2 separate regions of the Homo sapiens genome follow, and region 2 is linked to region 1. The links come from fine-mapping of genetic effects on plasma protein levels. Region 1 holds a variant in brackets. A gene starts in the other region. All regions are shown on their forward strands.

Region 1 (12,651 bases):
TGCCCGTTTCCCTTAGCAGAGGTGAGCTCCTCAAGGGCACAGTCTGGTATTACTTACTTTCATGACCCTGGACCCTAGCAAGGTACTGTACACATGGTGGGTGACCAGAAAGGTTGGCAGAGTTGACTTGGGTGAGATTGCTGGGCCCCTGTGTGTCATCCCCTCTAAGTCTGTAGAAATAGACTAATTACTCTCAGCAATAGACTAATCGTTGCTTGGGACTCAAATGTAGCCAGCACTGTGTCCCAACTAATGCAACTGGTCTTGTTCTGCAAAGGAAAATAGTAGAAGGCATGTTCTGCCACCTAATTCCTCAGAAGGTAACATAACATGAAGAGACTTACCTGCTGAGAGTTGTACTGAATGTGTCAAGGAAGATACTATGTATCAGAAGAACACCCAGAGGCACCCTGTGCCTCTTATCTATTCATTCCTGTATTAAAGCATTCATCATGTATTTTAAAAGCTGTGCTCACAGTACTTAGGGTACAAAATTGACTAAGACCCAGACATTAGCTCAATTGTTTTGATTTGTAGATCCTGCAAATAAGTGAGAACATGCAATGTCTGTCTTTCTGTGCCTGGCTTATTTCACTTAACATGATGACCTCCAGTTCCATCCATGTTATTACAGATAACAAGATCTCATGCTTTTTTCGTATCTGAATTGTACTCCATTGTGTATAAGTGGAGCACTTTCTTTATCCATTCATCTGTTGATGGACACTTAGGTTGCTTCCACATCTTAGCATTTGTGAGTAGTGGCTATTGTGAACATGAGCGTGAAGATATCTCTTCAGTATACGGATATCCGTTCTTTCAGGTATATACCGAAGCACTGTGATTTCTGGATCTTATGGTAGCTTTCTTTTAATTTTTTGAGGAACCTCCAAACTGTTCTCTATAGTGGTTATACTAATTTACACCAACAGTGTACAAGGGTTTCCTTTTCTCCACATTCTTGCTGGCATTTATTATTGCCTGTCTTTTGGATAAAAGCCATTTTAGCTGGGGTGAGATGCTATCTCACTATAGTTTTTTATTTCATTTCTCTAATGATCAATGATGTTGAGCACCTTATCATATGCCTATGTGGCATTTGTCTGTCTTCTTTTGAGAAATGTCTATTCAGGCCGGGCGCGGTGGCTCACGCCTGTAATCCTAGCACTTTGGGAGGCCAAGGCGGGTGGATCACGAGGTCAGGAGATCGAGACCATCCTGGCTAACACAGTGAAACCCCGTCTCTACTAAAAATACAAAAAAATTAGCCAGGCATGGTGGCGGGCACCTGTAGTCCCAGCTACTCGGGAGGCTGAGGCAGGAGAATGACATGAACCCAGGAGGAGGAGCTTACAGTGAGCCGAGATAGTGCCACTGCACTCCAGCCTGGGCGACAGAGAGAGACTCCGTCTCAAAATTAAAAAAAAGAGAGAGAGAAATATCTATTCAAATCTTTTGCCCATTTTTTGATTGGATTATTAGATTGTTTCCTACAGAGTTGTTTGAGCTCTTTATATATTCTGGCTATTAATCTGTTGTCAGAATGTTAGTTTGAAAGTATTTTCTCCCATTCTGTGGTTTGTGTCTTCACTTTGTTGATTACTTTTTTTGCGGCACGGAAGCTTTTTAACTTGATGTGATTCCATTTGTCCATTTTTGCTTTGGTTGCCTGTGCTTGTGGGGTATTACTTCAGAAATTTTTGCCCAGACCAATGTCCTGAAGAGTTTCCACAATGTTTTCTTGTAGCAGCTTCATAGCTTGAGGTCTTAGACTTCAGTCTGTCTCACTCTGTTGCCCAGGATGAGGTGCATTGGAATGATCTCGGCCCACTGCAGCCTCCACCTCCCAGGTCCAAATGATTCTCCCACCTTAGCTTCTGGACTAGCTGGGACTACAGGAATGCACCACCATGCCCAGCTAACTTGTGTATTTTTTGGTAGAGATGGGGTTTCACTATGTTGGCCAGGCTGGTCTCGAACTCCTGACCTCAAGTGATCTGCCCACCTTGACCTCTCAAAGTTCTGCAAAGTACTGAGATTACAGTCATGAGTCACCCTGCTCAGCCAGATTTCAGCCTTTAATCCACCTTGATTTGATTTTTGTGTCTGGTGAGATATAGGTGTCTAGTTTCATTCTTCTGCATATTGATATCCAGCTTTCCCAGCACCATTTATTGAAGAGATGTTCTGTTCCCCAGGGTATGTTCTTGGTAGCAGTGTCAAAAATGAGTTCACTGTAGGTGTTTGCATTTGTTTCTGGGTTCTCTTTTCTATTTCATTGGTCTATGTGTCTGTTTTTATACAAGAACCATGCTGTTTTGGTTACTGTACCTCTGTAGTATAATTTGAAGTCAGGTAACATGATTCCTCCAGTTTTGTTCTTTTTGCTGAAGATAGCTTTGGCTATTATGGGTCTTTTGTGGTTCCATACAAATTATGGGATTTTTTTCTATTTATTTGAAGAATGTCATTGGTATTTTGAGGGATTGCATTGAATCTGTACATTGCTTTGAGTAGTGTGGACATTTTTAACAATGTTGATTCTCACAATATATAAACATGAAATATCCTTTTTTGTGTCTTCAATTCCTTTCATCAATGTTTTACAGTATTCATTGTAGAGACCTTTCTCTTCTTTGATTAAGTTAATTTCTAGGTATTTAGTTTTATTTGTGGCTATTGTAAATGGGATTACTTTTTTATTTTTGCCAGATTGTTCACTATTGGCATATAGAAATGCTACTGATTTTTGTATGCTGATTTTGTATCCTGCAACTTTACTGAATGTGTTTATCAGTTCCAATAGTTCTTTGATGGAGTCTTTAGGTTTTTCCAAATATCATTTGGAAATCGTTTGCAAGTCATTTGGAAATGTCATTTGGAAGTCATTTTCAAGTATCATTTCCAAAGATTACTTGGAAATTATTTGAAAATTTTCTTGCTTCCTGGCACAAAATGTGTCCTAAACTTATCTTGAACATTCTTAATTCTTGCCCTGGCATCAGCCATTTCTCTAAAGAGCTCTGGTTCCCTTCAGTGGAAAATGGTATTCATAAGCCAAGATCGGGGCACTAAGTGTGTTCATTGCTATTGAAATGTCATTGTTACCTAGCCCTATCAGTGGAGAGAAGTAGGGAATATATGTTTTTTGTACACACACACAAATACAGACATACATTTACATCTATCTATCTCATTATCTGTCATCTATCTGTTACCTATCTATCATCTATCTACCCATCTATCTATCTACAAGGGTATGAATATACACGGTTACATCCATTCCAATCTAATTTCATAGGATTCATGCTAGTTTTCTCCCTTTCTGAATCCATGACTCCCTTCTGCAAAGGTGAGAAGCCTGGCTTCTATCATCCTTAATACATTTACTTATTTGATCAATCCCCTTTATGTAGCCAAACCTCACCCAACCCCTCCCACTCATGGATGCCCTCCTCGCCTCATGTGGGTTCTCCATACCCTATTTAGGCTCTGGCTGCTCTTGCAAGCCACCCCTCTGCGTCGACCCCTTCTCTGCTTGCTTGGACTCCCACACCCAGGCCAGGATGTCTCTCCACATGAACCTCCTTGGTCTCTGACTTGGAGCCACCATGACTCTCTCTTCTCTACCTTAATGTGTGGCCACCATCTGGCTGCCACCCACCTAATGGCTTTAGGACTAAATTATTCAGGAAGGGAAAATAAAGGAAGAATTTGGAAAAGAAAAGGAATGAGTGCTTTTAGGCTTATTGCTCAATCAATTGACCAATCGACTGTTTTTTATTAAGTGTTCATTGCATCGAGACAGTTGGGTGTTGAGGATGGAATGCAAGAGGTGTAGGGAAACATGTTTTCTGTCTCCCAGAAATATGAAAGGAGATGGGCTGAAAACATTAAATCAAAACTAATAATATAATAAGAGCTTCAGTTCTTTGTTACAAAATGTACGTGCTTCAAAAAGGCATATTTTTTTAAGACTGAGTCTCACTCTCACCCAGACTGGAGTGCAGTGGTGCAATCTCAGCTCACTTCAACATCCGCCTCCCAGGTTCAAGTGATTCTCCTGCCTCAGCCTCCTGTGTAGTGAGATTACAGGCGAGTCCACCATGCCTAGCTAATTTGTGTATTTTTAGTAGAGATGGGGTTTCAACCATGTAGGCCAGGCTTGTCTTGAACTCCTGACCTCAGGCGATCCACCCGGCTCAGCCTCCCAAACTGCTAGGATTACAGGCGTGAGCCACTGTGCCTGATCAAAAAAGGCATAATTAAACTATGAATATTCTTTCTAAACAATGGGCAAAGTCACAGTGGATTAACTTTCACCTATGTTAATAATCAAATTCTAGTTCTGACAAAGGCCCCACGCCAACAGTGATTACAATGACCAAAAATATTTACTTGTTGGTTCTCATTCAGTTCTATAGATTTCTCCTTAATGTGCAGGAAAGCATCTGATAATACTTTTGTAAAGTGGTCTTTATTGATTTAACATAAAACTTATAGAATACTCCAGAGAAAACATGTGATATAAATGTCATTGTTAGAGCCATCAAAATAATTCTTATTTTCATTAATAATTTGTGGAGGAAATTATTGAGAAATGTTGATTCTCTTATCAGAGCTCAGGAGGAGTTAATGGTGCTAACTGGGGGTGGTGGAAATAGTCCCGTGAGAAGCAGAGGAGCCAAATCTACCTCCTCACACTGATTTGGTCACCTCCTTTATATTCCCAAGTATAACACTCTACACAGACAATGAGAGAGCTCAATGCATGTACAGAATCCCCGGTTATTTATGCAGTCCATTGGATGAAGCCCATCTTCATTTCAGAGTTCTATTCACAAAGTAATTTGAGGTCTCTGGTGTTCTCAGGCACAGATTTCTTGAAGAGCAAAGCAGAAGTCCTTAGGAAAATTCAGGCTCCACTTACGGTGCCATCCCTTGACTCAACCTTTAGAACAACGGGTTTTTCTGGTTGAAGAAGTCCTCCTAAGCTTAATTTCAGGGGGATCTGCAACAGTTAAACAAGCATATTGAGAAGCATTAAATAAACAAAAGTAGAAAGTATAGCATCAAAGTGAGTGAGACACTCCTTCAGTGTTGAGGGGACACAACAGAGTGATATTCTGATCTCTATGGAGTAATGGGCAAAAAAAATGCAGTAATGACAATAATGCTTTGTAAACATATAAAAACTACTTTCAGCACTATAAATCTTGGATTCTTTATACTTAGTCTATAAGATGTGTGAAGATTGGACAGTGAGAGCATTCATCATCTATCATTTAACAAAATATTTATGGAGTACTATTCTGTGCCAGGCCTGAGACAAATTCATGGAAACCTGTGTTCTTTTTTGATTTAAATTTTAAGTAAAATGGATGAGTTTTTAAAATTTAAACCAGATTATTAGGTATGATGGCAAACTGTTTTTGAAGAGTCATATAAAGTTAATTTTGTGTATGTTGAAACTTGCAAGGTAAACCTGGGTAGTTATTGTACATTTTAATTATATGGACAGTCTTCAACTTCCAGAGTCCAGTAATTCCTCCCAATTGAACCCATCCAGTGTAAAGATGGGAAGACACCTTCAGGAAGCATTACCATTTTATTTTTTAACATCTTCTCTTGGCTTCCAAGGGTAGTGCAAGTGGGGAACCTCTCAATTCCTACAGTGTTTGGACTCAACTTTTAGCCCCATTCTTATTGAGACACTCCTTCCGTGTTGA[G/C]GGGACACAACAGAGTGATATTCTGATCTCCATGGAGTAATGGGCAAGAAAATTGCCAGGGAGATCAAGAAGTGCCAGGTTGGGAGCTTACCAAGGAGTACCTTCCCCATCCCAGGTGTGCCAGAGGACCACTTTTATTCAGGGCTGAGTCCCCTGTCTGGGCACATATAATACAGCTACACTGCTGGCCTAAAGCCACAAATAATATGGAATATGGAAATAATATGGAAACTATTTCTGTCTTCTTCCTCTCCTATATAGAAAGCCTACTTAAGGGGTGGAATTGAATAATAAATACATGAGACCTAGAAATAAGATTTATAGGGTATTGTTTAATATGAATCAATGACGTCTGTTCTTTAACTTCTTCAGAGAAAATATTTCAAATCTTTCTATAAATATAATACCTTATTATTTAAAAATTTTCAAAAACCCTGAATATATTTTCACTGCAGACAGACATGCATGCCCACATGTGCACACACACACACACACATGCATATGCACGAATGGCATTTGTTTAAAGGTTCACATTAAATAGCTTAATATATGTATGCAAGCCATCAACTGCACATCACTCCTTAAACATTTACCAAATGCTTGCATTAGATACAGTCCCTTGCAAGGCACCACTGGGATATTTTAAAAAGGAATAAAATGAGAGGATATTGTTAATGGAGGGGGGAAGACATTTTAGATACAAAGAAAATATAGAGAATAAAACTCAATGATTTAATGGCAAATTGTCAAATTTATGATAATAGCCTCCAGTATCCAATAACAGAGCAGAGAAGTAAATGGGCCCTGGACTAGGAGGAGAAGACACTTTGGAGGGGCTTGGGGATTGAACTAGGACTTGAAAGATAAGAACAAAATGAGGAGAAAGGGAACAACATTTTTTTTTTTTTGAGACAGAGTCTCGCTGTCACCCAGGCTGGAGTGCAGTGGCCCAATCTCGGCTCACTGCAGGCTCCGCTCCCTGGGGTTCATGCCATTCTCCTGCCTCAGCCTCCAGAGTAGCTGGGACTACAGGTGCCTGCCACCTCTCCAGGGTAATTTTTTGTATTTTTAGTAGAGACGGGGTTTCACCGTGTTAGCCAGGATGGTCTCGATCTCCTGACCTCATGATCCGCCTGCTTCGGCCTCCCAAAGTGCTGGGATTACAGGCATGAGCCACCATGCCTGGCTGGGAACAACATTAATAGAGTTATAATTGGGTTGAAAAGGAGCCCAGCTGGATGGAGCTAGGCACCTGGAAGGTGAGGTCAGTCAGGATGGCCTTGGACTGTGGTAGTCCTTTATATCCACCAGAAATGCCTTAAATTAGTCATTCTCAACCTTGGCTTCACATGAGAAGCAATGGGGAAGCTTTTAAAGCCACACTCTGGGCAAATTAGTTTAGAATTTCTGTGATATCCCAGACATCATGAATTTTTAAAGCTCCCTGGTGATTCCAATGTACAGCTAGTGGTTGGGAGCCACTCTCATGAGAAAGCTTCTCCAAGTTCTGGTTGGGAAGAGCAGCATTCAAAAGTCACAACAAGGTAATCATTACACTTCATGACTGTGCAAAATACTTCCCCATCTTTCCAATCGACTTGAAACTGAATGTAAACTTTGCTCAAGTTCAAGGAGACTGCAGATAATTATGCCATGCTAATCTACATGGGCTTTACATGATGTTTTTGATGCTACAGCTTTTGAACTCCAGAACTGAAGCACCCTTAAAGATCACAGATGGGCCTAATTGATTCTTTGGCCCAGAGAACAAATTAGTAAAAGATTAAACAAGCATATTCTTTTTAAAAAATACAGACCACTCAGTTAAAAGAATTATTAATACAACATTATTTTTATAGAAAATTGACTAACCTGTGTTTCTTTACAAGGTTTGAAGGAGAAGTTCTGAAGGACTCTGATTAGAGCAAGTTTCATGTTCATGAGAGCAAACCTCATGCCAATGCAGTTTCTGGGTCCACTTCCAAAGGGTGTGTATATGTAAGGATCTATGTTGTCCTTGTTCTTCTTGCTGAATCTGGTTCCACGTTGGTAGATTTTTAAAAAGTTAATGACATAATACCCCTAAGAGTTACATGTTAGGGTTTCTTACTTAGGGGCCACCCCTCAACTAGTAGTACACAGGATACTTTTGTGGGCTGGTCATTGAAATCCTGCTATGCTTATTTTGCTATGAGAATTGTAAGCTACAGATCCTTTCTACTCTCCTGACACTATAGGAGCTTTCAGTCTTGTTGAGATGAGATAAATAGTGTTGCAAAGAATACTTATTTCTAAACACTGAAATTATATTCAGGGTGGTGATGTGTCCACACTATAAAAGGCACATAAGTGATGGGACTGACTGATGGAAAAGTAGGTTCCTGCCTCAAGTCACACTTACATTGGTCATGAGGAAGGAGAAGGGGAAATTGTCTTGTACTATTTCAAAATTGTTATTTTGCACTTTCCTTCTCATCTCCTCTCTTGTTTTTCTAATTCTCCTCCTTCTCCTCCTTACCTTGTCTTCTCCCTCCTTCTCCTCCTTCTTCTTCTCTCCATCTCTCCCTCTTTCTCCCCCACACCTCCATAGAATAGTTGAAGTCAGATAATTTACACAGGCATATGATGCTACTGTACCGATGTAATGCAGTATCATCACTGCTTTCTTTGTCTATCTGTTCCAGTAAGCTATAAAATTCTTTGAAGATTAGATGCATGTTTTTTATTAAAATGTTATTCCTAAATATTTGATTATATTTATGAAAAAAATATTCATTTGGGGGACATAATAATAGCATTGTGATCATGTGTTTTTAAAAGAGTCCTTACATTTTGGACACTGATGACCCATAAGGACATAACTGATGACCTTCATCGTAAGTTGTTGGAATTGTGGATGACTGTAGTTTTCTTTTTTCTAGTCTATGGTTTGTAAAGTGTGACAATAATCAATTTGATGATTAAAAAAATCTCTAAATATAAAAATACAAGCAAATAATTATACAACCACATGACTGTCCTGTAGATTAAGAGAGGCAGAATATGCTTGAACCAGGCTGGTTCAGGGAGGGCTCCCTTCCCAGGGGCCTTGTACCTTTCAGGGAGGAACTTCTCAGGCTCTGTCCAGTACTTTGGGTCACGGTGAAGAGCATAGCTTGGAATCATCACCACCACCCCTTTGGGAATGAACATCCCATTGATCTCAACATCTTTTTTGCAGACCCTCTCAAGTCTCATAGCAATTGGGAATAATCTGAGCGTTTCATTCACCACCATGTCAAGATACTCCATCTGTAGCACAGTATCATAGGTGGGTGGTGCCTGGAAAGAACGAAACAGATTTGGATAAATTGAGATTTTGAATTAACTTTTAACTCAGTCCATGCAGTACTAATGAAGTATTAGGAGCTCCAGAGACTAACTCATACTGGTAAAGGATCGAAGCATTTATAAAGTGTTTTAATAACTGTCATGCCCATTGCTGTGCTCAGTGGCCCACTGAGATGTGTGGAGGAGTTATGAAGGTGGGAAGCATTCGGGAAGGCTCTCACCCCAGGGACTGAAATCCTTAGCATAACCGTGTATATATGTCTATATATATATACACACACACATACACACACACATATATATGTGTATATATATGTGTATACACACACTAAAAGGAGGACTTTTGTTATATACAGAAAATGTGGAGAGAAACACTATATTATATAAAATCTCCATAAATAATTTGAGGATAAACTAGTCCCTTTCTATCCCAAAAATGACAAAGAAGGTTCTGGTTGGATGTAACCAGAGAACACGATTTCAGTGCTAGTGGAAGTTATAAAGAGGATAGAACCCCACACAGCCCTGTCCTCACTTGCTGAAACAGTCTCCTAGTTGTTGCTTCAGGGCTGGACTGTAATCTCTGAAGAACATCCCTTTGTGTTCACCTCACTGCCACAGCCGGGCCAGCCCCAAAGCCGTGTCTCTTCATACCACAAAGAATCCCAATTTTGGCAGAGGTCTGAAAACAGTGTGGGTGATATGCACCTAGTATTTGGTGTTATATTTGGAAGGCAATATGATAGTGTTTTAAGACTTTAGCTCAGGAGCCAGATATCCTGGTTCCTAGCTTGGCTTCTTCACCAGTTACTGCCTGACTGGAACATGAGATAGGTGTGGGGAGAGCTGAGTCAGCCTGCACAGCACACCCAGGGCCAGGCTCCGTCAGACTACAGCCAGACCAGAGCAAGTCCTGCCAATATCAGCAGAGCTCACTATCCAACTATGATGTGTGGAGGAGTTATGAAGTGGGGAGACATTCGAGACGGCTCTCACCCCAGGGACTGAAATCCTTAGCATAACCGTGTACTGGTTTTTCTTTCTCATTGAAACAAATGTGACTAATAGGCTATGACCACTAGCATCAAATAACATATGAGAAAGTGATTGTTACCTTTCAAAAAAAAAAGTCACATGTCTGTAACCAAGAAAATAAAAAGAGATAAAAAGAGCAAATTCCTGTGTCCATATGTGGATACAGCTAAGGGGACATCACACACCACTATGGTGCCTGCTGCAAACATGTAATTCACAACCAAAACCAATGTGAAATGAGTGTGAGCAACAAATGCTTATTGTTAGATGCCACTGAGGTTTTTGGAGGTTTTTTACTTAGCATTATTGTAGTAATAGAAAGCAGATGAACCAGAGCCAGCACGTTTTACAAAGATCTTACGCTTCTGCCAGTAGCAACCATTTGCTATGTTTCTTTCTTTTTCTTTTCAGAGCCTTCCTACATAGAGTCAGTGAAAGAATCAGTGATTATGCTTTTTATAAAAATTCTCCTGGGAAGTGGTGAGGAGGCATTTTTGCTAAGGTTTCACCTCCTCCCTCCTTCTCCATGTACCATCCACTCACCTTATTGGGTAAAACTGCATCAATTTCCTCCTGCAGTTTCTGCTGGACATCAGGGTGAGTGGCCAGTTCATACATAATGAAGGAGAGAACACTGCTCGTGGTTTCATAGCCAGCAAAAATAAAGATAATTGATTGGGCCACGAGCTCCAGATCGGACAGAGCTGAAAGGAGAGGAAAGACATTTTAGGTAAATCAGATCAATGTAGGGCATCACAGTTTAGATGAAGAGAAATCTAAGTGAAGCCCTCAAATCCCTAAGGGAAAAGAATAGAAAAGCAATTCAGAGGTACACTGGGGGTGGTTTCATTCTGATGTGTATCTTACAGAACCAGAATAAGGCAAATCATTTTAATCCAGTTTTCCCCAAGGTCTTCGAGAATGTGGGCCATCCACTCCTCCTCATGCCACCCCCGCCACCTGCACAGCTGTGTAATTTCCAGAGAGAGCATTTCCGCATAACATACTCAGTGTTATGGGTGTGTTCCTTGAATGATCCTAAAAGTACTTTATTGTAAGTTAATATGAGGTAGTACTCTCCCCCAAGAAAAATGTAATTTATTTTAGCTACAATATATCTTGACAAACTTTGAGAGAATTTGCAACACTAATGGTTAAATGTAGGGAAAATCAAAGGACGTTTCCCGAAGATATGTTTGAGGGAACTTAAGGGACCAATATTGGTCTACAGACCACTTCTTGGTATTCAAAGTGTGGTCCATGGGTCAGAAGCATCTGAGAGCTCATTAGAAATGCAAAATCTCAAACCCCACCCTTGAACTACTGATTCAAAATCTGAACTTTCACAAGATGCAGTGATTTGTGTGCATAGCCTAGCTTGAGAAGCACGGATTATATCTTTGAGAGGCATCAGGTGATAGATCTAGGCTACAGTTCTCAGAATTGACTATCTCAGGATGTACAAGAATGAGAGATGGACAAAAAGCTAGATGAGTGGTAATTGATTGTAGTCTGATGGATGGCATTAAAATAGCATAAGCTCCTATGATTACAAGTTGGGCCCCTCTTGATTTTTCTCCTGAGAGAAGCTCAGGATGGTCCATCACTGGTCTGTTTGATCAGGACTGGATTAGGACCTTTAGAGACCTGGAACATAGAAATAAATATAATGCCTGCTCCAACCATGTAATTCACAACCAAAACCAATATGAAAGGAGTGTGAGAAAGGTCGACAGAGCTGTGATTTACCAGTGAAGACTTCTGTGATGCAGTTATAAGTAAATTCAACTACCTAATCATAGTATTCAGTTATCATGAACCTGATGATACTGATGTGAAATTGAACTATAATCTCAAAGTTTAGAGCTCTGCTGTCCAATATGGTAGCCACTACCCACTAGTGGCTATTTAAAATCAAATTTTATTAAATTAAACTGAAATACCATTTAAAATTGATCTTCAATGGCACTAGCCACATATCCAGTGCTCAATAGCCATATGTGTCTAGTGATTTCTATATGAAACAGTAAAACAATAGACTATTTCCTTTATCACAGCAAGTTATATTGGGATAGATAGATGAATAGTTAGATGATAGATAGATAATATATAAGTAGATAGATGATAGATGGATAAATGATAGATGATAGATGGATAGATGATAGATAGATAGATGATAGATAGATAGATAGATACATAGCTAGATAGATACATAGATAGATACATAGACATACAGACAAAAGTGGATGTAGACATGGATATATTTAAAGCAGTATGCTGGAGTAAGCCCAGTCCTGCTCTCTAGAACCAATAGTTAAATATTCAGGAATTTTGTGAGATGGTTGCCAAGTCTTGGTGGCTTGTAATTGACCATGGTCATCATTTTGCCACTGTCATAGTAATAGTGACTTCAGTAAAAAACATACATGGGTTGTAAAACTCGTAGGTGAAACATTGAAGACAAAGAGGATATTTACACGGTCTCAGAGGTTTTCCCCACAAGTTACTAATCCATTCCAAAGTGGAAAATAACTTTGCAGTAGATTAACCTGGTGAA
Region 2 (12,571 bases), not on the chromosome of region 1:
CAGATAAATGTCATCAAAAAATGGTAAAGGGGGAAGCCAACCAACCAGTCAGAAAAATTGGTAGACTCATAGGGGTGATAATGCCGTGTTAGGATTCTATAAAATCTGGTCCTCAGTTTTTCCAGTCCAGAAATTCTCATTTTTTCCTAATCATCCAGGGTAAGCATATTCTCAGAGAGTTAACTCTGCTAACCAAATCTCAGATAGACTAAGATGAAAATTAAAAGACAGTGTATCCATTACAATCCATTACATTTGATGACAGATAAATGTCATCAAAAAATGGTAAAGGGGGAAGCCAACCAACCAGTCAGGAAGATTGGTAGACTCATAGGGGTGATAATGCCGTGTTAGGATTCTATAAAATCTGGTCCTCAGTTTTTCCAGTCCAGAAATTCTCATTTTTTCCTAATCATCCAGGGTAAGCATATTCTCAGAGAGTTAACTCTGCTAACCAAATCTCAGATAGACTAAGATGAAAATTAAAAGACAGTGTATCCATTTACAATGAGAACCTTTTCAGTGACTAGGATGATTGGTTTTGGTATCCAAGTCACCCCTTTCCCAAGATCAGATTGCCTAGGAAATTGAATTAGTATCAGAACAGTACCTGGTGAGCAGAGTCAAACGAAGGACCCTTCTCTTCTTGTTTTAAATGAGGGTTCTGCTCAGGGTAGAAACCTGACAAATGTGATCAACATGGAAAATCATTTAGAAAAAAAAAATCAAACTTTTAGAGACAGTAGCAAGCCCACTATTACTTATTTCACCCAAAGCCAAGACTGCATGTGTCATTTGAATAAAAATCTAAATGATAACTCTTTTTATATATTTCTCTCAATTTTTGCAACGTTTATGGTATAATCACGTTCCTAGAATTCACTGATCTGAGTATAATTTTGAAAGAAAATGAAAGTTAAGGAAGTATCCCGCTTTAGTTTCCGTTTCAGTCGCTATTGATTTATCTTTAAGCCTGTGATTATGGCATCAGGCCAAAAAAGACAACAATGAAAAAAGGAACAGTCTGCCCTGACAAACTAATGAGCACAGACGAAGGCAAAAATGCTTTCCCGGAAACTGTTATGCTTAGAAGAAATTTTCTAAAAAGTGAGCAGGAGGACATCAGTGATTTCTGTGGACTGGGAATCCCCTCAGCTGGTGCAGAATATGCCTTGGAAAGTATGGGAGAGCAGGGCAAAGCTTCCCCTTCACAGTTTTCACTCTGAGCTCTCAAAAGATTCCCCGAGCTCACAGTGTTTGGTAATACTGGTTACATACTTTTCAATTACCCATGTGTCTCATCCTTCATAGCCAGCCTAAGCAGAGGGCAAACTGAGTGCTGGCAAAGTGGGTGGTAGACCCTAACAATCATCATGGCATTGGAGGAGGCAGAGGCTCAGAATAGCTTCTGTTTGGATACATTTTAGGCTATGCAGTGTTTCTGAACTCGCGCACTTGAGAGGACTTTTACAAATATGGCAGATTTCATCATTTGGAGGAAGAGACAAAATTGGAGGACATTATAATAAAGTAAATGTGTTTGGGGGAAGTATGGTGCATTTCTTTCTCCTTCCCATAAATAAGATATTTCAACAAAATAAATTAGAATTTTGTGATACTTTGTTCCATTTTTAATCAAAATCTTTAGAAAATGTCTAGTTTTAATTTTAATTGATTCATCATTGGTTGTCTTTTCTTTTGAGAAGAGGAATCTTGAGATATGATATAGTTCAGTAGTGCCTGTTATTCCATATTTTAGATTATCATTCAGTTTTCTTCAACTTCTTATTGACAGTTTGTCTTTGTGAACAATTTGAAGAAGAATGCTAAGTCAGGATTTATTATATAGAGTCTATAATTCACGTTAGGGCATTTCCAATTTAGTAGCAGTTTATTGAGCAGCACTAAGGAACTATGAATACATCTGTACTTATGGTGCCAGGATTTTTAGGACGTATTCTTCTTAGGTACTTAAGTGAAACTATGGTTTCAGTGTTATGTGATAATCTCAGACTTGCTCAATTTCATTACCAGTGTCTGGTTAATAAAATTTGCAGACAAGGCAAGAAGAAGCAACTAAAATTGCCTCATTCACCCCTTCTCCAAAAAAAACCCTAACAGTTTTTTTTGTGTGTGTACTACTTATAATCCACAGAATGTGCTGACCATATCATAAAGATTTATAATTGTTGGCTATGAAAATCTTTTCAGAAATAGATACAAAGAGGTATATTAATTCCATGTGGGCATATTAGGTCCTGTACTCAGTAGCCAAAAATAATTAAGTATAATCTTTCCTTTTCTAATAGCATTATCCAAAACTACTCCATTTGTTTGAAAGCTCTTCTTGGCTAATTAGAGGAAACAGTCCTGAAATTTTAAGTCACTGTGAGTGTTTGGCATCTTAAGTTCCATGTATTTAAAATCGAATCTGCAGTTTTTTCTGCTAAACTACATCTTCCCCCTCATATCCCTATTTCTGTTAGTGACAGAACTATTCTTTCAGACCTCAGAAGTTCAGCCTTTTTTCCTTGTCTCTTCTCTGCTTTAAATTCAGACTCAAATCCTTAACATGTTCTTTGTTTCTTTTTTGCATCTTCAACTTTCTTTTTCTGAGATGGAGTCTCGCTCTATGTAGCCCAGGCTGGAGTGCAATGACGCGATCTCGGCTCACTGCAACCTCCACCTCCCGGGTTCAAGCGATTCTCCTGCCTCAGCCTCCTGAGTAGCTGGGATTACAGGCATGCACCACCATGCCCAGCTAATTTTTTGTATCTTTGGTAGAGACGGGGTTTCACCATGTTGGCCAGGCTGGTCTTGAACTGCTGACCTCGTGATCCACCCGCCTCGGCCTCCCAAAGTGCTGGGATTACAGGCGTGAGCCACCGTGTCTGGCCTCAGCTTCAACTTTCACATCCAATCTATCACTGTCTTGATTATTTTTGTACAGTGTACTTGTCATTATATTTCTACTCTTACCAATACCACCTTAGTGTAGCCCTTCTTCTTTTTATGATAGTAAAATACAAATAACATAAAATTTACCATTTTAACCATTTAAAAGAGTACAATTCAGTGGAGTTAAGTACTTTCACAGTGCTGTGAAGCCATCACCATAATTTAGTTCCAGAACATTTTCATCACCCAGAAACTCCATACTCATTAAGTAGTTACTCCTCATTAACACCTCCCCCAAACCCCAGTCAGCTAATTTGCTTTTTGTTTTTATGGTTTTGCCTACTCTAGATATTTCCTATAAAATGGAATCATACAATATGTGGTCCCTTGTGTCTGGCTTTTTTTACTTAGCATATTTTCAAGGTTCATCCATGTTGTAGCATGTATCAGTACTTCATTCCTTTTTATGGCCGAATAATCTATTGTGTGTGTATACCACATTTTATCCATTCACTTGTTGATGGATATTTGGGTTGTTTCTGCTTTCTGGCTGTTGTGTATAATGCTGCTATGAACATTTGTGTACCAGTTTTTGTTTAAAGAGCTGTTTCAGTTCTTTTGGGTATATACCTAGGAATGGAATTGCTGGATTATATAGTAATATATAATTACTATAATTATGTTTAACTTATTGCAGAGCCAGCCCCATTACTTTTCACACCAGTGTTTCCCAAAGTGTGGGACACTACCATGTACATTGATAATAACGTTTAGTATCAGTGAATTATTCTCTTCTTAACTTCAATCCCTCTGATTAATTAAATCAGGGGGAATATTAGTATTTTTTCATTGTATTTTGTTTTATCATTACATTTTATTTCCATGGCATGTATTACCGATTTTACATGTACAGTAGTGAAAGTTTACTTTTCATGTAAATGTACGTAAAATAAAGTGGTATACAGAGTTTCTAAAAATATAATGAAGATCAAACAGAGAAATGTTAAAAAAAAATTGTAAAGATGATATGAGAATGCCTTGAAGTTTTGGAAATACAGACCTGAGATATTGCAGCTATTGCAGCAAATCCCAACTGATTTTCCTCCTCCACTCTTTCCCACTTTCAATCAACCATTCATGCAATTCCCAGAATATTTTCCAATGACTTTGATAGGGTCACTCTCTTCTTCACAAACATTTATTGAATCCCCATTTTGTACAGAGTAAAATTCAAGGTTATTTACAGTTTCATGTCCTTCATCCTTCCAACCAAACGAATCTAATTATGATTCCTAAAAATCACTTTATACTTCCTACTACTGTACATTCCCTTGTGTCATTCCTCTGCTGTAAATTCCTTTTCCCTTAGTTTATATTGCCATTCAATAGGGTCTGATATGCACCAGAAACTGTACTGTTGGCCTGGGCTACAGCAGCTTTCTTTTACACTTATGAGAGAGCAGATATTAGGCACAGGAATAATTCATTAATTACAATTGCAGTAAGTAGTATGATGGAAAAATAGAGAGTGTTATGGAAATAAATAAATAGGACACCTAATCTAGTTAAAGCTGAAGTGGTGGTTTCAAAGGCTTCTTGGAGAAAAAGTCATTTAAGCTGAGACCTAAGCAATTAGTAGGCATTAGCTTAGTGAAGAAATGGGCAGAGAGAATAGTATGTGCAAAGGTACCAAGGTGGGGAGGATCTTGGCTCAAATATGTTAATTATTAATATTTCATATATTTATTTTGCTATGAAGAACTTTAGGTGTATGTTTTCTTCTCAGTAATAATGTACTGGCCTATAATATTTAATATACTTCTTACAAATACCAATTTATCATGCAGCCTTAACTCTGTGAATTTTTTTTTTTTTTGAGGCAGGCTTTTGCCCAGGCTGGAGTGCAGTGGTGTGATCACAGCTGACTGCAGCCTCAACCTCCCAGACCCAAGTGATCCATCCACCTCAGCTTCCCAAGTAGCTGAGGTTACAGGCATGTGCCACCATACCCAGCTAATTTTCCTATTTTTTATAGAGATGAATTTTCGCTATGTTGCCCAAGCTAGTCTTGAACTCCTGGGCTTAAGCCATTCACCTATGTTGGTCTCCCAAAGTGCTCAGATTATAGGTGTGAGCCACCATGCCCAGCTGACTATGTGAATTTTTATTTTTAAAGAGACTTAAAAAAAAAATCACTGTAAGTAGTCAAAGATTAGATTCAAGTCTTTTTTTTTTTTTTTTTTTTGAGGTGCAGTTTCACTCTTGTTGCCCAAGCTGGAATGCAATGGCATGATCTCAGCTCACTGCAACCTCTGCCTCCCGGGTTCAAGCGATTCTCCTGCCTCAGCTTCCTGAGTAGCTGGGATTACAGGCACGTGCCAGCAGCCTCGGCTAATTTTTTGCATTTTAAGTAGAAATGGGGTTTCACCATGTTAGCCATGCTGGTCTTGAACTCCTGACCTCAGGTGATCCGCCCGCTTCGGCCTCCCAAAGTGCTGGGATTACAGATGTGAGCCATCGCACCCAGCCAGATTCAGGTCTTAAAACTATCCAGGGAATTTATATGGAAGTCCCATCTCTATATAGATATTTATATAGATTTATATAACAATTTATTATAAATCTATATTGTATCTATAACCTATATAATAATGCAATATAGATATATCTGATTATAATCCTATAATAAATATTTTTATTTTTCAAATGTATGGGTGCCTATATAGAGAGTACTGCTATCAGTCAAGGCTTTTGGTTACATGCAGAGAAACCAACTCTGGCTATCTTAAGGAGAAAAAGAATTTAGTTGGAGGTTGAAGAATCCACAGGACAATGGAGAATAAGTCTTGGAAAATGGACAAAGACCTAAGGGAACTAGGTGATAGGAAGGACTAGCCAGAGTCATGCTACAGGAACACACATTGGGAAGACACTACTGTAAGACTTTCATTGTTTCTCCTGCTGCTGCCAGGCTTGAAATAATTTTCTTACTAATAGTATCTTTGTGATGCCAGCTGGAGTTCAAAGTCTAGGGTAGAAACAGCATGGCTGAGTCCTTGTTGTGGCTACAGGAGAGGATCTCCTGTCTTTGGCTTCTCTCTTTTGGCCTCCCACCAACACTCACATAAGGGATTTTCTCCAAGTAAGAAGGGGGTTTGGACTATCAAGACCCCCCAAGGCCGACAAAAGAAACAACTGTCTTTCCCACCTACCCATTAAAATATATTTCTAAACAGTTTTTCATGATGACGGATAGGTGTATGTTTCTGAAATATAAGGCAAAATTGTTAAAGGCATCTCAAATGTCCTGGAAAGTATATAGATCTTTTTTTAAAAAAGAAAGGTTGTGGTAGTTTATTAGAGAAAAAAATGACTTTGATTCTTTAAACTAGTCTTGAGTATACCTAAATTTTACAGTATATAGGCATGAACAAAGAAATTGATTAGATTATGTATTTTTCTAAGAGACAGAATTACAAAAAGTAAAAGTGATTGCTAGGTATACATTTGCTTATTTTTCAACATTTTTCTTTGGTAGACAAAAACATTTTGTATTTCAGATGTGTCCAAGATATTGCTATCATTTATACAAACGGATCAAAACAAAAAGTACAGTAAACACACATATCCTAATTGCTTCAAAACATCTCAATGAATAAAAGTTGAAAAACATCAAATTAAGACTGGTGCTACTAATTTGGTTATGAAATATGTGCACTTTTGCCAGTATCCCATAGCGTATAATTTTTTTCATAGTACATTTTATGAATTACATTTAATGAATTGGTTATAAAACAAACCAAATGATGCATAAGAATGTCTCCCTACATATTGATGTGCTACATGATGTTTGGGGAAAGAAGTGTGTATTTGCATGAAAAAATGTTTGAGGAATGTTTTACGACACATAGATGCTTTTGACTTATAAGGGCTTGACTCCAGTAATAATGTCAATGTCTCCACCGTAACCACAGATAGTAATATAGCATAAAGATCAATACAGACAGATGACTTCTAGAGACAGAAATGTTCTCATAGTCACAACAGAATAGTTGTAAGCATCAAATCTAGAAGGTTCTCTAGCCTAGAAATGCATGAATGTATAATGCAACAAGTAAGAACGTGAAAGCACTTTGTAAACTCCGATGGTAACCAGCCTTTCTTAAGGTAGCTTTTCCTAGAAATCCATTTAATTGTTGGACTCCTTTGGGCAGTGGAATTCTGATTGTCATTCATTCAGGAAGACTGTATTTCTGTTTTTGGTCCTTTCACCCACCTTTCATCCTTCACATAACTGTACAAAAGTTGAAAGTCACAAAACCATAGAAAAGTCTCAGTTTCCTACTGTAGAATTCTTGTCATTTCAGTAGTCACAGTTAAACTTGTTCTAGGTTTTTCAGATGCTCTTTTCCAGGACTTCATATGTTTTGATATTTTTAAAAATTCTTTCTTTCAACTTTCTGGAATAAGAAAACAAGAGTTTTATTTACTTGGGCTGTTCTTGTTTCCCCCAGGACATCTAAAAACATGTAGTAAGAAGGGGAAGCTGTTACAACCAAGGACCCCTTAACAGAATATTTCACACAGGATCATAGCAGAATCTTTCTGTAGTTGTCCACATTATTTTCTTTTTCAAAAGATCTGTCTTGGATAAAACAGATTATAACATGGGAGTAATTTGGTAACTTACTTTGATTATAAGCCTTGCTTGCTTCGATTTGGGATTTAGGCATCGTTGTCCTTTATTTTCTTTCAGGGTAATACTGTTAAAAGAACATACAAGAGTCTTAAAGTTTAGATGCAAATACATAAACAAAAAAGCCTGCACCATTGTCATCTTCAGCAAGTTCATTACTTACATCACTTCTATTTTGTCACAGTTGTTACTTGGGTACATTATGGAGGCTTTCTCAATATCTGCCACTTTCACTGCTTTTACCCCAGGGCCTATGCAAAGACAGCGTCCTCTTTTGAACATGGGGAAGCCTAGAATAGATCATAGCATTAGTTAGTAATGCATCTGATTGCAACAGATGGCTGTGGTTTATAGCTGGTGGTGAACGTGAGCAGAATTTTCATTAAGGGTAAAGATAGTAATTTGTCAAATAGCACTTAACACAACTGTTACTGGGAAAAGTTAAGTAAGATGTTGATTATTTTCTCATTAAATTAGTAAGCAAATCGCTAACAAATGGGAAGCATGAAGGAAGTTTATTGGAGGTGAAGCTTGTTTTGCCCCCTTGATTTTATCCTCAAATATTTTCCCAGGAAGCTTGTTAACATGATCGCTATATAAAATCTTCTTAACAGACATTTAAAACTGTTGCTAAAGGCTTTTGCCAGATATTCTAGCCAAATCAAAAATTCCATGAAGTTCATAATTTCTAGTTTCAATAATCATCTCTAGTATCTTAAACATGTCCACCATTTCTGTGCTAAAGCTGTAGTAACTTCTAATCTGTGAGATTAAATAAAACTTTATCATGTCTTTTAGGATAAAAGTGGAAGAAAAGACATTTGAAACATTAGAAAAGGAACTTATAGGTTGAGAAATAAAAATTACTGCATACCTTGAACAACTGTAGCACACAATATCACAGCCAAGGCTATAGCCATGCCCTTCACACTCATGTTTGTTTTTTGCTGTTGCTGCTGGTGCTGCTGCTGCTACTTCAGCTTTGCTGCTCTTCTTGGAAGGAGTAGAAATGCTGAACATGAAAGGAAATTGATAATTGGCATATATAGAGCATTTTATACACCAGCAATCCTTTTATGGCACAGGAATTTCCCTCTTTGAGTCATGCACCTTTCCTGCTTCCAAGAGTTTCTGTTTTGTTCTCTTCTAAATGTTACTGTCCCTTCCTATTTGCAGTAGTGTTGAAAGTGATAAGAATGTGAAAGCACTGTGAAAACCCAGATGGTAACCAGCCTTCTTAAGGTAGCTTTTCCTAGAAATCCATTTAATTGTCGGACTACTTTGGGCAGCGGAATTCTGATTGTCATTCATTCAGGAAGACTGTGTTTCTGTTTTTGGTCCTTTCACCCACCCTTCATCCTTCACATATCTATACAAAATAATATTCTGAAAAGCTTTTTTTTATTATCTCACTTTTGCTTTTCAGTCCAAACTCTTATAATAGATAAGGCCTATATTATTTGACACCAGATGACCTTTATTCAATTTCATATTTTTACCTGTAAATGAGTGCCTAAAGAAGTTTCCCTGTGTTTCTGTATTTATGTCCATATTGTTTTGCATTTTCAACAATTTTTACTTTATATATTTTATTTTGTTTTGCTTTATTTTATTTTTAAATTTAATTTAATTTTATTACTTTATTTTATATTTATTTTATTCTGCAAAGCTTTCATTATAGGCAGATGGCAGGGGGCTCAGTCCTTCTTGGCAGCTGCTTTCCTCATGGCAGCCAGGACGTTGCTCAGCTCCTCCTGCCTTCTCTTGGTGCAGATGTTTGTCCCTACCCTTTTCTTGATGAATTTGAGGGCCTGTTTGACCTTGGAGACCTTCAGTAACTCCATGCCACGCCACTCGTTAGGGGTGAAGCCACACACCTCTGGGATCATGTCCCACACAAATTTAGTGAGTTTGGTCAGGCGCCCACAGTGGCTGTGCCTGGGCTTGCTCACATTCTTGGTCACCTTGTGGCCCTTGTTGAGGCCCACAGCTATAGGGTAGTGCAGTGTCATGGCTGCTGCCCTCCAATGGTGGCCATGGTGGAAAGCTACTTTATATATATTTTAGCACTGTTACTTAGTACATGAAGTTGTATGAGTTGTATTAGGGATCATAAAAAAAAGTGATCCTCTTTGCTCATGTGATAGTTTTACCTCTGAGATTCTACTTTGATGTAATTCCTATTTTTTTGTCTTTATCTTTTCCTCTTAAGCTTCCTAAATCTTTGTTTTAAGTGTGTCACTTGTAGATGTTTAAGAAAATCATATCAAAGGAGCTTTCTAATGGGTAAGCTTAATAAAATATATTTACTGTATAACTGGTAATCTGTAATTTTTAAAATGCTTCCTTGCTGATTCTTTATGTTTTCTTTGATTTCTTTCTAACTTTAAATATATTTTATTTAACTTTTTGAAGCCATTTTTGTTTTTTTTAATGAGATGGGTCTCACTCTGTCACCATTCTGGAGTCGAGTGGCACAATCATAGCTCACTGCAGCCATGAACTCCAGGCCTCAAGCAATCCTCCTGCCTTGGTCTCCCAAAGTGCTAGGATTACTGGGATGAGCCACGGTGCTTGGCCTTCCTTAAGTAATTTGAAAGGAATACATTGTTTTACATTTTGATATTAATTCTTAAAATTCTTTAAAAAGATTTTTACCTGAATTTTTCTAATTATTTACATCAACCATCAATAATATTTTTTTAGCTCCTGTCTTTGTAACATGAGAAAATCACTGTAACTTTCTTTCAAGAATTTTCTCCTATTTCCTAGTTTTACCAATAAAAGTTGGTATAATCGGGGAATTTATAGCCAGTTTATTACTTTTAGATTATTATTTTATCTTATTCAACTTCTTTTTTTGAGAATTATCATTTGCATTTTATCTTGAAATTATATATTTATTTAGATATAATCCTGCATTTAAATTCTTTAACAACCATGACTAGTCTTTAAAACCTTTGAAAGTCTTTACAGTAGTCCCCCATTAAATGAGAAATTCTAGAAATAATTCATAAGTTTTAAATTGTGCACTTTTCTGAGTAGCATGATGAAATCTCACATCATCTTGCTCCATCACTTCATCCCATCACATAGACATTTTATCATTTCACAGCATCACTAGAAGAGTGAGTATAGTACAATAAGATATTTGAAGAGAGAGAGACTACACAGTCACTTAACTTTTATTACAGAATATTGTTGTAATTATTCTATATATTAATGTTGATGCTCTTACTGTGGCTAATTTATAAATCAAACTTTTTTATAGGTATATATGTACAGGAAAAAATACAATATATACAGGGCTCAGTACTATCTGCAGTTTCAGGCACTCATTGGGGGTCTTGGAACATATCCCCCAAGGATAAGGTGAGGGGGCTACTGTATTTTAATTAATTTCCAAGTAGCTGGAATATTCTTTCCTTCTTTTCCATTAATTCATTTAACATATGTAAAGAAAGACTAATTTTCCCTCAGGAATATGGGTAAAGTAAAAGGAATGTGTTCTTGGAGCTCATAAATCCTTATCTGTTATTATTTTTTAATGTTGCTTTTCATTTTCTCAGCATTAGAAACACAGTAGAGCATAGTTGTTAATAGGGAAGGCTCTAGAGTCAGCCTGTGTTCAAATCCACCCTTGATTATTTATTTATTTATTTATTTATTTATTTATTTATTTATCTTTGAGATGGATTCTTGCTCTGTAGCCCAGGCTGGAGTGCAGTGGTGTGATCTCGACTCACCACAGCCTCTGCCTCCTGGATTCAAGTGATTCGCCTGCCTCAGCCTCCCAAGTAGCTGGGATTACAGGTGCGTGCCTCCATGCCTGGCTAATTTTTATAGTTTTAGTAGAGATGGTGTTTAGCCATGTTGGCCAAGCTGGTCTTGAACTCCTAACCTCAGGTGATCCTGCCGCCTTGGCCTCCCAAAGTGCTGGGATTACAGGCGTGAGCCACTGTGCCCAGCCCACATTCAGTTATTTATGAACAAGTTACCTCAACTTTTTGAGGCTATTTTCTCATCTATAGACTGGGGATAATAATAGTACTTTTTTTTTTTTTTGAGATGGAGTCTCTCTGTGCCACCCAGGCTGGAGTGCAGTGGCATGATCTCGGCTTACTGCAACCTCCGCCTCCTGGGTTCAAGCGATTTTCTTGCCTCAGCCTCCCAAGTAGCTGGGATTACAGGCATGTGTTACCACGCCCAGCCAATTTTTGTATTTTTAGTAGAGATGGGGTTTTACCATGTTGGCCAGGCTGGTCTCAGACCCCTTTTTCATAGGGCTGTTATAAACTAGGTATTAAAAGAGGTAATGCATATTAATCATTTAGAAAAATATGTAGCACTCAAAATGTATTAACTGCTATTATTATTATCAGTGTCCTTTCCTGAATTGGCATACCACATCTAGCTTGTTTTCAGCTGTTTTTCAGCATTAACACAAACACAACCACTTAATAAAAGATGAGTTGACATTGTTATAGCATATAAAAATATTTTAAATTATAATAACCATGAATATAAAAATAGCATACTAATCATAAAAATCACTTACAGAAAGTGCATGAATGCAATAGCATAGTTCAAATAATATAGACAAACAATAGTGAATATTTCTGCTTACTAGCTAAAGTGTTGTCATATAGCTTTGGTGTAAGACAATTTCTTAAATAGGGATTCTTAATTTTTTTAAAAAGACCCTGGAAATTATTAAACATATTTTTACATTATACTATTTTAAATAGAAAATAGACATAATTCAAATTTACATAAAACAAGACTAAACTCTTCCTTTTGCCTTCATGTGTGAATTACTACTTAGCTGTGTAGAAAAACTGTGGATCACAATTTTCTCCTTCAGTACTCTGCTGGGAGTCTTGGAATGTATCCCCCAAGGATAACAAGGGGACTACTGTATTTTATTTTCTATTGTTTTATTTTCTTCCTTACTGCAAAGGTAATATCTGATATTTT

Direction of the effects. Alleles are on the strand shown, and positions count from the first base shown. The strength of an association depends on the size of the effect and on how common the allele is.
For the plasma level of the protein whose gene starts at base 8,612 in region 2, allele G in region 1 goes with a lower level than allele C (weak association).

Evidence for each region. PIP is the posterior inclusion probability: the model's chance that the variant is causal. The UK Biobank Pharma Proteomics Project read protein levels with antibody pairs (Olink). The fine-mapping took linkage between variants from a reference panel, not from the people measured, so its PIPs are less certain.
Region 2: it holds the start of CXCL11, and the variant in region 1 is fine-mapped to the plasma level of the CXCL11 protein (UK Biobank, PIP above 0.99).

What each region holds. Positions count from the first base shown.
Region 1 is chr7:99,753,218-99,765,868 of GRCh38, forward strand. It overlaps CYP3A4 (cytochrome P450 family 3 subfamily A member 4), which reads right to left. Exons shown (of 13, transcript NM_017460.6): 10 at 10,638-10,798; 11 at 8,824-9,050; 12 at 7,602-7,764; 13 at 3,750-5,011. The coding sequence ends at 4,916. It overlaps CYP3A4-AS1 (CYP3A4 antisense RNA 1), which reads left to right and starts at 10,715. Exons shown (of 1, transcript NR_198962.1): 1 at 10,715-12,651. RefSeq lists an enhancer at 10,414-10,694. The variant G/C (reference allele first, on the strand shown) is at 5,730.
Region 2 is chr4:76,027,459-76,040,029 of GRCh38, forward strand. CXCL11 (C-X-C motif chemokine ligand 11) reads right to left here and starts at 8,612. Exons shown (of 4, transcript NM_005409.5): 1 at 8,469-8,612; 2 at 7,758-7,884; 3 at 7,589-7,661; 4 at 6,224-7,358. The coding sequence starts at 8,529. The coding sequence ends at 7,335. It also overlaps a transcript of ART3 not described here and the pseudogene RPL36P8.